Linked DNA regions of Homo sapiens. The protein of the gene in region 2 interacts with the protein of the main gene of each other region in a pairwise test. Each region holds a gene or a part of one and is shown on either strand. Other genes may lie near its edges. The genes, in order: PECAM1, CIAO2B and UBE2K.

Region 1 (3,749 bases), on a different chromosome or scaffold from region 2:
ACCAAGCAAGCAGGGTCAACACTGGGGGTGGGCAGGGCGGCGGCTGGAACCAGGTCTCCATTCCTTAGGCCCCCTAGGCCAGCATTTGCAGTGCGTGGCCTGCAGGCTTGCTCTGAGTCTCCCGCTCTGCGGCTGGGGTCCTGGGACAGCCTCGGCCCTTTCCCTTCCTTCCATCTCAGGCCTCTTTGTTCCCCTCCAGCCCGCACCTCACTGCAGCTGCCTCACCTCAGGAGGTGACGGCTGCTCCATCTTCACCTAGAAAACAGTCATCTGGAGGGAACTCCCTCAACTTCCCGCCTGGGCCTGGCTGCAGGCTTATCAGCCTCTCCACCCATCCTCTCGGTTTCCCTCCCGGCCTCGGAGGACACATGCACCCTGCTCCTCAGCTGATGGGGGCCAGCCAGGCACTTAGGCTGAGACCCTTCCTCACCCCCAGGACCCCACGCCTACGTGCATTCAAGTCCCTCTCCCCTACCACCACTTCTAGAATCTCTATTTCTGCTTCTGGCTCTGTTCTCTCAGTGAATGGGAACTCTTTTTTTAGGAAAAAGAAAAATCACAAGCAGACACCCACCCCCACCGTTTATCTGGTGTCCCCCTATCTGGCCTTTCTAGTTTCCTTTCTCAGTCGAACCTCTCTGAAAGTTAGTTTATAATCTGTGCCTACCCACCTCACCTCTCAGACACGCCTCGCCTCCCAGCAGCCTGGCCTCAGGCCCCACTTCTCCGGCTGTTGGGTCTCCTCTTGCTGAGGGGTCACCAAGGACCACCTGATGCCAAATGCAACGGACACTTCCAGCCCTCGGCTCCCTGTACCCCTTTCCTGCCTTTGACTTTTGATCGTGCCCCAAAGCCTCGCTCCTTGACCTTTTCCATCCTCTTCCCTGCTTTGTCTCCTCACTCTCTAACAAACCCTCTTCCTTCTCCCCCATGGCTGACTTTGGACTTACTTTGTCTTCTCCTGGAGTCTGAACCCTGTCCTGGTCTCTGCGGGCTCCTGGTCTTATCCTCCCTGGAGACCAGCTCCCCTCTCAACACCTCCACATTCCCCCCTCCTCCCCTAAGTTCACACTCCTCCCACCTTCACAGTCCAGCCCTGGCCTCTGCCCTGAGCCTCCAGTTAACACAGGCTGACCTTTGATGTCTCCTCCCAGTCCTCCTACTGGCCCCTCACACGCAGCTGCACCACCATCACTTTGTCTTCCTTCCTTATCTTTTTCTGTTTGTTTGTTTGTTTTTGTAGAGACTGGGGTCTCATTTTGTTGCCCAGGCTGGTCTCAAACTCCTGGGCTGAAGCCATCCTCCTGCCTCGGCCTCCGAAAGTGCTGGGATAACAGATATGAGCCACCACACCCAGCTGCGTGTGGCATTTTCTATTTTAGTTTGGTGGCACACACATCCTCCTGGGAATCTAATCCAGGAAGTTTATCTTCCATTCTTTCAACCCCATATCCAATCAAACAAAGTCTTTTTTTAAATTGTGGTAAAATACAAATAATATAACATTTATTATTAATGACATTTAGTACATTCACGGTGTTGTGCAACCATCACCATTGTCTAATTCTAGAACATATTCTTTCTTTTTCTTTTTTTTTTTTTTTTGACAGAGTCTCACTCTTGTTGCCCAGGCTGGAGTGCAGTGGTTGGATCTCAGCTCACTGCAACCTTCACCTCCCAGATTCAAGCAATTCTCCTGCCTCACCCTCCTGAGTAGCTGCAATTACAGGCACGAACCACCATGCCCGGCTAATTTTTGTATTTTTAGTAGAGACAAGGTTTTGCCATGTTGGCCAGGCTATTCTCAAACTCCTGACCTTAAGTGATCCACCTGTCTTGGCCTCCCGAAGTGCTGGGATTCATTCTAGAACATTTTCAACACCCCAGAAACAAGTCCTGTTGAGTCCACTCAGGAGATCCCCAGCCTATCCTTCCCTCATCCCCACTGCACCCGCCTAGCTCAGGCCTCATCAGCTTTCACCTGAACCACTTCCAAGCTGTTTACTGGCCTTGGGTGCTGTCACACCCCTCCTGACACCCTCAGGACAGGGCCCAGCTTGTCAGCACAGCAGGCCAGCCCTCCATTCTGGCACGACAGACCCAGCCACCTGGCCTCTCTAGCCCCACACTCTGGTTTCTGTAATGGGCCATGCCCAGAAGGCACGGATTTCTCACACCCTCGTGTCCTGGGACACGCTGTTCTCTTACCTGGAGTACCCCACTGCCTGTCCTTGGCCTGGCAGGCTCAGTTCAGTGGTCACTTCCTTCAGACTCCTTGACCTCTCCTGGGCAGCCCTTCCTCTTGGTGCTTACTGATATCACTGGAGTCCAGCTATGTGGGCCCCAGCAACCTTTGCTGTTTGGGACAGCAAGGATGATTTCTTACTTACTCTGTCAGCCCAGCACCTGGCACAGGTTCTCGACACATGTCTCATTGGATGGGAACTTGAACTGAACTTGGAGATGCTTGAGATTCGGGTAGGAAGATGGCTCAGCATGCTCTCTGATGAGCACAGAAGTTCATCAGGGACTCTATGCTTCGTGGCTCCCAGTAATTTTCCTGACGAGGGTGGGCAGCCCCTCCTTCTCCTGCACCCTCCACTTTCTCTCTGAGTCATTTCCAGGTTGAGGGCCAGGGGGCTGGCTGACTGATGGTGCCGCATGTTTCCAGGGAGCACCACCATCCACTGATGAGTGGCCTTGAGGTCAAGGTCCCACTGTTTTTAGCATGTTGGGGTTTGGCACTGTGGTCACTGGCTGTTCCGTGGTGACTTTCCAAATTTAGATCCTTCTCCGTCAACCTTCATCTCCCCGGGTTGAAAAGATCTGACCTCTTTAGGCTGTCCCACAGCCCCACCCTTCATCACAATAGTCCTGAAACTTTTTGGGTTCAGTAAGGAAATCTGTGGGCCTTCTCTCCAGAAAAAGCACACATTTGCACACAATTGGAGGTAGTTGATGAGCCTCCTAACACCCACCCATGCACCTCCCAGGGGCTGTGTCCCCCAGGTTGTGAACAGTCACTCTGTGTAAATAGTGAGACCTACAGGCAGTAATTCAGTTTGGCTGTGCTTGGCTGGTTTATTTAGAAAGATGATAATGTTTTCCATATTATCAAAACAAGAATCAGGCAGAGACTTTTGAAGTTTGGTTGCGTGGTATATTTGTTACCTATTGCTGCATAACAATTTACCTAAAACTTACTGGCTTAAGATAACACAGATTTATTATCCTGAAGTTTCTGAGGGTCAGGAATGCAGGAGTGGCTGAGTTGGGTGGTGCTGGCACCGGGTCTCATTAGATTGCAGATAAATTGTTGGTCAGGGTTGCGGTTATCTGAAGGCTTGACTGAGTCTGGGGAATCTGCTTCCAAGCTCACTCCTGTGGCTATGGGCTGGAGGCCTTAGTTCCTCATCCTGGGTACCTTCCACAGGGCTGCTTATGCTATGACTGCTGGCATTCCCCAGAATGAGGGATCCCAGACAGGAGAGAGAGTGATCAGGATAAAAGCTGCATTGTCTTTTATTACCTGATGGAGTATTTTGTTGGTTAATGTTAACGTGGGAGGTGACCACGTGTAAGTGTGATGAGCAGAGGGCAAGGACCATTGGGGGGGGCATCTTGAAGGGCTTCTATAGCAAGGGAGGTGGTGGTGGTTGTGGCGGTAAAAACTAGGTCACTGTTTTTGTTGTTTTGTCGATGATATTTGTGTTAAGATGAAGAGCTGAGACTCATATCTCAACAGAGTT
Region 2 (3,749 bases):
GATGCTGCCAGAAGCTATTACTGTTATTACCGGCCGGCAGCACCCGCTACAGCCACAATCATAAGAGGGAAATGGACTGAATCCCCACACCCCAATCCCTCACCCACTCCGACCCCAGGCTGCCTACCCGGCCTGGCATGTCCCGGCGCTCCTGGGGCCCCTGTACTCCGCTGGTTCCTTGCCGTGGTGTCCCCCAGCCCGACCCTTTCTGTGCTTCTAGGAGCCCACCTTGGGCGGCGGGGAGGCGTTGCGTGGGGCTCACGAGTTCCACGCTGTCATCTCCACCAGCTCCTACCTCCCAGGCGCCTGCCCTCCCGCACTGTCAGGTTCTGCCTCCGCAGCATTTGGCAGATCTGAGCCCGGTCCCTGTCGCCCCTCCGAGGGAGCCTCACCCTGGCCCCGGACAAGAAGCAGCAGAAGCCCACAGGCCACCGCGCTCAGCCGCGCACGAAGTCTGTGCAGCCGCATGGTCGGCTCGCTGGTCTCGGTTCGCTGCCGGCGGACACGCTGCTGTTCACCCAGAGGCTGCCCCGGGTCTGTCCAGCAGTGGATCAGTGCCTTGCCCAGCCTTGGAGTTTGGACTGGGCAGGGAGTCAGCGGGGTGCGCTGGCTTGGGCCGGGAAAGGTGGGTGTGGTAGGAGAGCGGGACTGAGCAGTCATAGGTGGGTGGGGATCTAGTGGTAGGCAGGCCCGGGCACGGCCACTTTCCTTTGCCCGGGCTCCTTTGGCATCCTCGGAAGGGGCTGTGCCATTCCTGCAGCCCTTCCGCGATCCAGGGAATCCTCTCTTCAAACCTGTCCTTGTCCACAGGCCCGATGAGCGCGCTGGGGGATCGATAGGAGGGGGCAATAAACTAGAATTGGAGACCCCAGGAGGGCTTCTCTGAGGATGTGCACGTTCAGGATCCCCCAGATGGAGAAATGGGAAGGAACTTGATCGGGGTGAAGGAACCGCTTGAGCAAAGGCAGGAAGGAGTGTCGGCGCCCTTCATTCTGGAAGTTCCTCCTTGCTTTCAGGACTCAGTTTCCTGGGTTCCCCTTCACGGCCCCTCATCTCCTTACAGTCCAGGGTCTGAGGGTCTCCGCGGTCCCCTCCCTACTCAGTCACGCCATTCTTTTGAAACGTACACGTGACCGCGGCACTTCTTAAGGAGCGCCCCCCTTTTCCTCGGTGGCTTTCAGTTTCCTCACCTCCCGCGGAGACCACGGCCATGGTCATTTATCCACTTGACAAACATTTCACGAGCCCCTGCCGGTCCAAGCTGTGGGGACGCCGTACTCCCGGGCCTATGGTGCAGCAGGGGAGGCAGGCGCGTCACCGGGAGGTCCCGAGACACTAGGATCCCTGCCAGGCCAGAGGCGACCAACCGTCCTGGATACGGGAGCTCCCGGCCAGCCTGACTTCCAGGAGGAAGCGGTGTGGGGATTACCTCCGACCGCCTTTAGTGCCCCCTGAGACCTGGTTCTGGCCTCTACGTTTCAGCCCGCTACTGGCTCGCACGACCCAGCGCCGCCGTGGTCCCTTCTCAGCGCCTTCTGCTCCAGCGACCATCATGTTCCCGGGTCCGAGCAGCCAGGGCCGCGGTCACCGCTTCTCTCGCACCTCAGGCCGAGAACCCACAACGCGGCGTGTCCCTCGCGCGACTCCGTCGCCACGCCACGCCCCCTTCCCGTTCTCCGGAAGTGCGCGGGTTGGAGCGGAAGCGCACGCCTGCTAGGATCAGCGGTGGTGGTTCCGCGATGGTAGGCGGCGGCGGGGTCGGCGGCGGCCTCCTGGAGAATGCCAACCCCCTCATCTACCAGCGCTCTGGGGAGCGGCCTGTGACGGCAGGCGAGGAGGACGAGCAGGTTCCCGACAGCATCGACGCACGCGAGATCTTCGATATCCGCCGCTGCTGGGCGCGGGCGGGTTCCGGGGGCTTGCGGTGGGGGGAGCAGTGATATCGAGCAGCTGGTGGAGCCGCATCCCAGCAGGGCGTTCCTGGCAGAGGGTTCTAAGTGGGCAAGGGCGCAGAGTCCCTTTTCCTTCACTTCCCACATCTGATTCGCTCCATCAATGACCCGGAGCATCCACTGACGCTAGAGGAGTTGAACGTAGTAGAGCAGGTGCGGGTTCAGGTGAGTCACTTCCGAGGGGAGCGAGTTGTTCCAGAGAGTCAGAAAGGTTTCTGTGCAGCAGGAGCTGGCGTGCTCTATGCTCACGAACACCGAAGGGTATCTTTGGGGAGGGAGATTGTTGTGCCTATTTTATGGGTGTTGAAACTGAGGCCCATAGAAGTTGGATGATTTGCCCAAAACAACAAACTAAGAAGAGGGACCTTGGGCTGAGGGTGGTTGACTCTTGACATCTCTCCTCCACAACCAGGTTAGCGACCCCGAGAGTACAGTGGCTGTGGCTTTCACACCAACCATTCCGCACTGCAGCATGGCCACCCTTATTGGTCTGTCCATCAAGGTCAAGCTTCTGCGCTCCCTTCCTCAGCGTTTCAAGGTCAGTTGGAGCTGAGCCCCGGGAGTGAGACCAGGCATTGAGGGTCTACTGCTGAGGATGGGGACTGGGAGAGCATGAACATGGATAGGACATCAGAGTGGGGCCTGGAAGGATCCCCATTAGCAGAGAGGAAACTGGGAGGAAGCTTTCCAAGTCGATGTGACAAGAATAAAGATCTGAGCTGGAAAGTGGAGAAAAGTATTGAAGAGTGTGGCAGGAAGGGCAGTAGGGAGCGGCAGATGGGTTTGGACCAGGGGTGGGGCACAGGCAGGCCTTTAAATCAACAGTAGTGGGCCAGTTCTTTGGATAGAATTGGAATAGCTAGGGCCGGGCGCGGTGGCTCACGCCTGTAATCCCAGCACTTTGGGAGGCTGAGGCGGGTGGATCATCTGAGGTTAGGAGTTGGAGACCAGCCTGGCCAACATGGTGAAATCTCATCTCTACTAAAAATACAAAAATTAGTGGGGCGTGGTGGTGTGTGCCTGTGGTCCCAGCTACACGGGTGGCTGAGGAAGGAGAATCAAATTGAACCTGGGAGACAGAGGTTGCAGTGAGCCGAGATTGCGCTGCTGCACTCCAGCCTGGGCAACAGAGCAAGACTCAGTCTTGGAAAAAAAAAAAGAATTGGAATACCTGTGGATGGGTTTGGGGTGTAACGGAAGGGCCAGAGTCCAAAGGCATGATTAGGAGGAAGGATCAGCTGGAGATGGTGCCTGAGGGTCTGGGGGCTGCAGGGAAAAGTGTGGGTCGGTGGGTGGGTGTTCAGGCCCTGGTTATCTCCCTCCCAGATGGACGTGCACATTACTCCGGGGACCCATGCCTCAGAGCATGCAGGTAAGTGTGGACTGGTGGTGAGGGTGTTGGCCCGGGCACCCCCTAAGCAGTCTGAGGCTTCCCCCTTGCACAGGAGTCTATGGGCAAGACTGGAGATGGGTAACTGTGTGAGTGAAATTGCCAGAGACTCCTCAGTATGGGTTATAGCCTAGACCGAAGCTGGCCTGAGAAGACTCTCCTTTGCTTACCATGTCCTCTTCTCCCAAATCCCCTCTCACCAAATATACAGGACCAGAGTGTGTCAGGCTTCAGCAGCGCAGGAGGCAGCCAGGGGGAGGGATCCTAAGAAGGCAGATTAGGTGGGCTCAGGTGGTTGAAGTAGCCTGATCAATATGTGGGGTCCTGGGAAGGAGGTGACAGGAGGGCTCTGTTGCTGCGGGGGACATATCCTATATAGAGGTTCAGAGGTAGGGCTGGCTAGCACT
Region 3 (3,749 bases), on a different chromosome or scaffold from region 2:
ACATTTTGTAGAAGTCCATGAAATAAAGTTAACTGTAAACAGACGGCTTCCTTTTTCCTATCTAAACATTGTTTCCCTCTACATACTAGAAGGTATACCTGGCTCCAGCTGTTCCCTACCCCAATCCATCTTAAATCTTTAAAACAATAACAACAAAAATTCATAATTTCCTATTTTGCTACATAGGATTGTAAAACATTACCATACACCTACTGCACAGTTTTAAAAGCTCAAATCAGGCATACACTTATACCCAAGATCTGCTTTTCACATTGGTAAACTTATTAAGCAGCCTCAACAGTAATACAGTATGCTGCATTCTGTAGTGCATAAATAAGCAAAATCCGTTTAAACTGCCAATTCTTTCTTACAGATACTTAAAAAGAATTATTTTGCATAGTTTTATGTGCCAACAATCATAAATGTGTATTACTTCTAAAAAATGAAAAAAAAAATCAAGTCTTCCATTTCATAGATTATTCTCTTCAAAAGCAAAATACTTAGACTCCATTTATATATCCTTGAATGTGTTACGTGTTTAAGTAAATCATAGTCGTGATTCCAAACATTTCGGGGTGCCAACTCAGAGCACCTAATTCAGTACCTAGTTCCTCAAATATTTATATACCACTGAATACTTATTTGGGTCCACTAACTGCCATTCATTCATTCATTCATTCATCAGTACTGAAATACTATACAGCTAATTATTTCTTCTTTTAAAAGAGGCACATACTCAGGAAACAGGCCTGATTATAACAAAAGCCTACTGGAGCATCAGTGACTTCTAACAAATCGGCCTGCCCTAAATGGGATTTCACTGGATTTTTTTTTTAACATAATTTTTGAGGCTTTTAAAACTGACAAACGGAGCCAACTCAAAAATATTAAGAATTACAAAAATAATTTCCACCAGGGTACTTTTCCCCTAGGCCTGACCTTTTAGTGTCTTTTTGTCCAAACATATTTAAGACCAGAGGAAAAAAGCAATTGCTTTAGTTTCTATGTTTGGGTAACTAAATCTACCCACAGACAAGAGAATAACAAAAACCAAACAGTACAGTGGGAAATATACCAGAAAGGAAAAAAAAGATCATCACATTAAATGTAAATGAGGTAAATTTTTATAATAAAGAATCTTTTATGAAGAATGTCTCAAACCAAATATTGTACTTTCCAATTTCTTGGGCACTGGGGATGCTGAAGTGTAGTTAGATGAGTATATAACCCTATAGGGCTCATGTGCATAAAAATCAAAGCAGGATATAGCTGCCTCCAAGAGCATGTATGTATGTATATATGTAAAATGCTTGACCTTTAGAAACCTCTGAGCTCTCTCACCTTTGTTTAACCACAGGACAATTAAATATACCCTGATAATACAGGCAAAAAATAAACTGGGTAGATGTGTCTGATATTTTTAAACCCAAATTCTACTAATACTACCAAGTTGCCCTCCACTTAAAAAAAGTAGTTCTAACCAACACTGGAGAAAAACCATCCACATTTTCACACAATCCCACCTTACTTCAAAATATAAAGTACGAGGTTTCAGGTATTTAAAATAAATAAAGAAAAATCTTGTTTCCTTTGGCATCTTTAGAAAATAAACTACAGCAATAAAAAGAGGTGATTGTATAAAGACATGCGTAAGCAAACATATGGGGAAAAAACAGCAACTTGTGTTTAGTATGTAATAATATCAGCTATAAGAGTTTACTGTTAATTAGGAAAGCCTTACAAATTTTTGGAAGAACCTTCACATCTTTAACATTACAATATATTTAATAATGGTTCTTTTATTGCTTCTAGTATCAAGATTATTGAGAAGTCAAATGAAGTTATGCTGACGTTATGATTCAAAAATTATCTTCCAAACATTTAACGATTATAATTTAAGATAAATAACACTTAAAGAAAGCAAACCTTTTATAATATGACTTTCAATATACAGCCTTACTTTAATTCAGTCTGATTCCATTACATTTTTGTTATTTTGTATTGGTCCTAAAAATTTAAAAAGAATTGTATTTCTATATATAGAACTGCCTGCATAAATCCACTTCAACCTTCATAAAATGGTTACATTAGTGTGTGATCTTGCAAAACTAATAATTTTCAAACTTTTGAACTTAGAATGAAATGTAAATTTAATACAAATAGTCTGACTATGTACAAGAGAAGGTAAAGTTTTCAATTCTCGTATTATCAGAAACATCATAAAGAAAGCTAGATTTATAACACACTTCTATTCCTATGTGCATCTGAAGTATGTACAATAAAACACCAACACAGCTTTCATGTGTCAATAGGGGAAGTGCAAGCAAGAATGACTTGAAGTATCCAATAAAGCAATCTCTATAGACCCCAAAATCAGGCTAAAAACTGCAAACAGCTGACTGCATCCTTGCCAGTTCTCAAAGAAAAATTTCATCACTAAAAAATAGGTGTCAAATTCACTGAAAAACTAAGTTGGGTTCTTTCATTAAACCTGGGAATAATGTAACATCAAGTATTTACTATTTTTGCAAGAGAAATAAAATTGGCAGTTCCATTTTTACATTACTTAAGAAAAATTTAAGAGTGTTTGAAGAACTGGGACAAGACATTCCAAACCTACGACCTAAAAATGAAGCAAGGGATACATACTGTCCTTCAGCACATTTCCCCACCTGATACAGAGAAATTTACCATTAGAATATTAGCTGTGTGTGGCAAGGCGGGGGTGGGGGGGGTGAAGGGGGAATCAGACACTGTCCCAGTCTGTTGACAAGGACAAAAAGGCTCTGAATAGGTCACCATCTTCAATTCTGAATAAATTTCATATTTAAGAATTCTCAAATGCTTAAAATGGTGGTCTTTTCAGCTACCCATCCTAAGAAGTCAAGTACAAGCATGCAAGTAAATTCACAGGCACAGAGGATCCATGTTAAAAACAGTTAAGGTAGCTGTGATGCAACACCAACAATTTGAATGGCCCTGACACACTCAAAATATTATCTTAATTATTCAACAAAATCCTGAAGCAAACTCTTGCTAGTCTTGGTACACTGCTAAACACTAAAGTAGCATGTTTCTTCCATGGTTTTAGCTTAGCTCAGGGAATTTTTACACTATTAAGAAAAAAAATTAAAGTATTTCCCCTTTTTAAATTTACACAGACGTTTAATTAGCTTTATTTACAGAGCAGGGATTTTTTTTTTTCAGTCTCCAATGGTGCCTAGATAACATCATTAGGCAAGAATGCCAGTTTAAAAGAAATCTATGCAGAATCCTAAAAATAACAGATGTTGGTGCTCCTCAAGAAGAGGCAAGCTTGACTATATCAGCAGCTCTCTATGCCTCAGTTACTCAGAAGCAATTCTGTTGCAGTCTCTACATCCCATGATTTTGAAGACAAGGCCACTATTACTGCATTCTGTAGAGAAGAAAAGGGGACAGGAAATTAAATCTCAAGGAAACATTTAAACAATACTGAATCATTCACTCTTTATACTGGGAATTAACACCTTGTTTCTTTTCTGTAAGTTGATTTACATTTGCAGTGCATGGAAAGCTTCTAAAATCAATGACAGTAATTAGTAAAAATAAAAAAATCACTGACTTTGAAAACAGAAAATATGTTTACCAAAACTAGATTTTCTCTTATTTTCCTTTTTTTTTTTTTTTTTTTTTTTTTTGAGACAGGGTCTTGCTCTATCACCAAGGCTGGAGTGCAGTGGCATGACTATCGCTCACTGCAGCCTCGA

Evidence for each region.
Region 1: the proteins of CIAO2B (region 2) and PECAM1 interact in binary tests that used the Homo sapiens proteins (3 or more experiments, as listed by UniProt).
Region 3: the proteins of CIAO2B (region 2) and UBE2K interact in binary tests that used the Homo sapiens proteins (3 or more experiments, as listed by UniProt).

What each region holds. Positions count from the first base shown.
Region 1 is NC_000017.11:64,384,260-64,388,008, reverse strand, and holds part of PECAM1 (platelet endothelial cell adhesion molecule precursor), read left to right. Parts: intron 1-3,749. UniProt on the Homo sapiens protein: Cell adhesion molecule which is required for leukocyte transendothelial migration (TEM) under most inflammatory conditions.
Region 2 is NC_000016.10:66,932,355-66,936,103, reverse strand, and holds the start of CIAO2B (cytosolic iron-sulfur assembly component 2B), read left to right. Parts: upstream 1-1,701; 5' UTR 1,702-1,739; coding exon 1,740-1,881; exon of another isoform or gene 1,882-2,037; coding exon 2,038-2,117; intron 2,118-2,364; coding exon 2,365-2,490; intron 2,491-3,278; coding exon 3,279-3,324; intron 3,325-3,749. Other genes in the region: CES2 (cocaine esterase isoform 1 precursor), read right to left, coding at 393-468.
Region 3 is NC_000004.12:39,778,029-39,781,777, reverse strand, and holds part of UBE2K (ubiquitin-conjugating enzyme E2 K), read right to left. Parts: intron 3,419-3,749; coding exon 3,344-3,418; 3' UTR 1-3,343. UniProt on the Homo sapiens protein: Accepts ubiquitin from the E1 complex and catalyzes its covalent attachment to other proteins. In vitro, in the presence or in the absence of BRCA1-BARD1 E3 ubiquitin-protein ligase complex, catalyzes the synthesis of 'Lys-48'-linked polyubiquitin chains.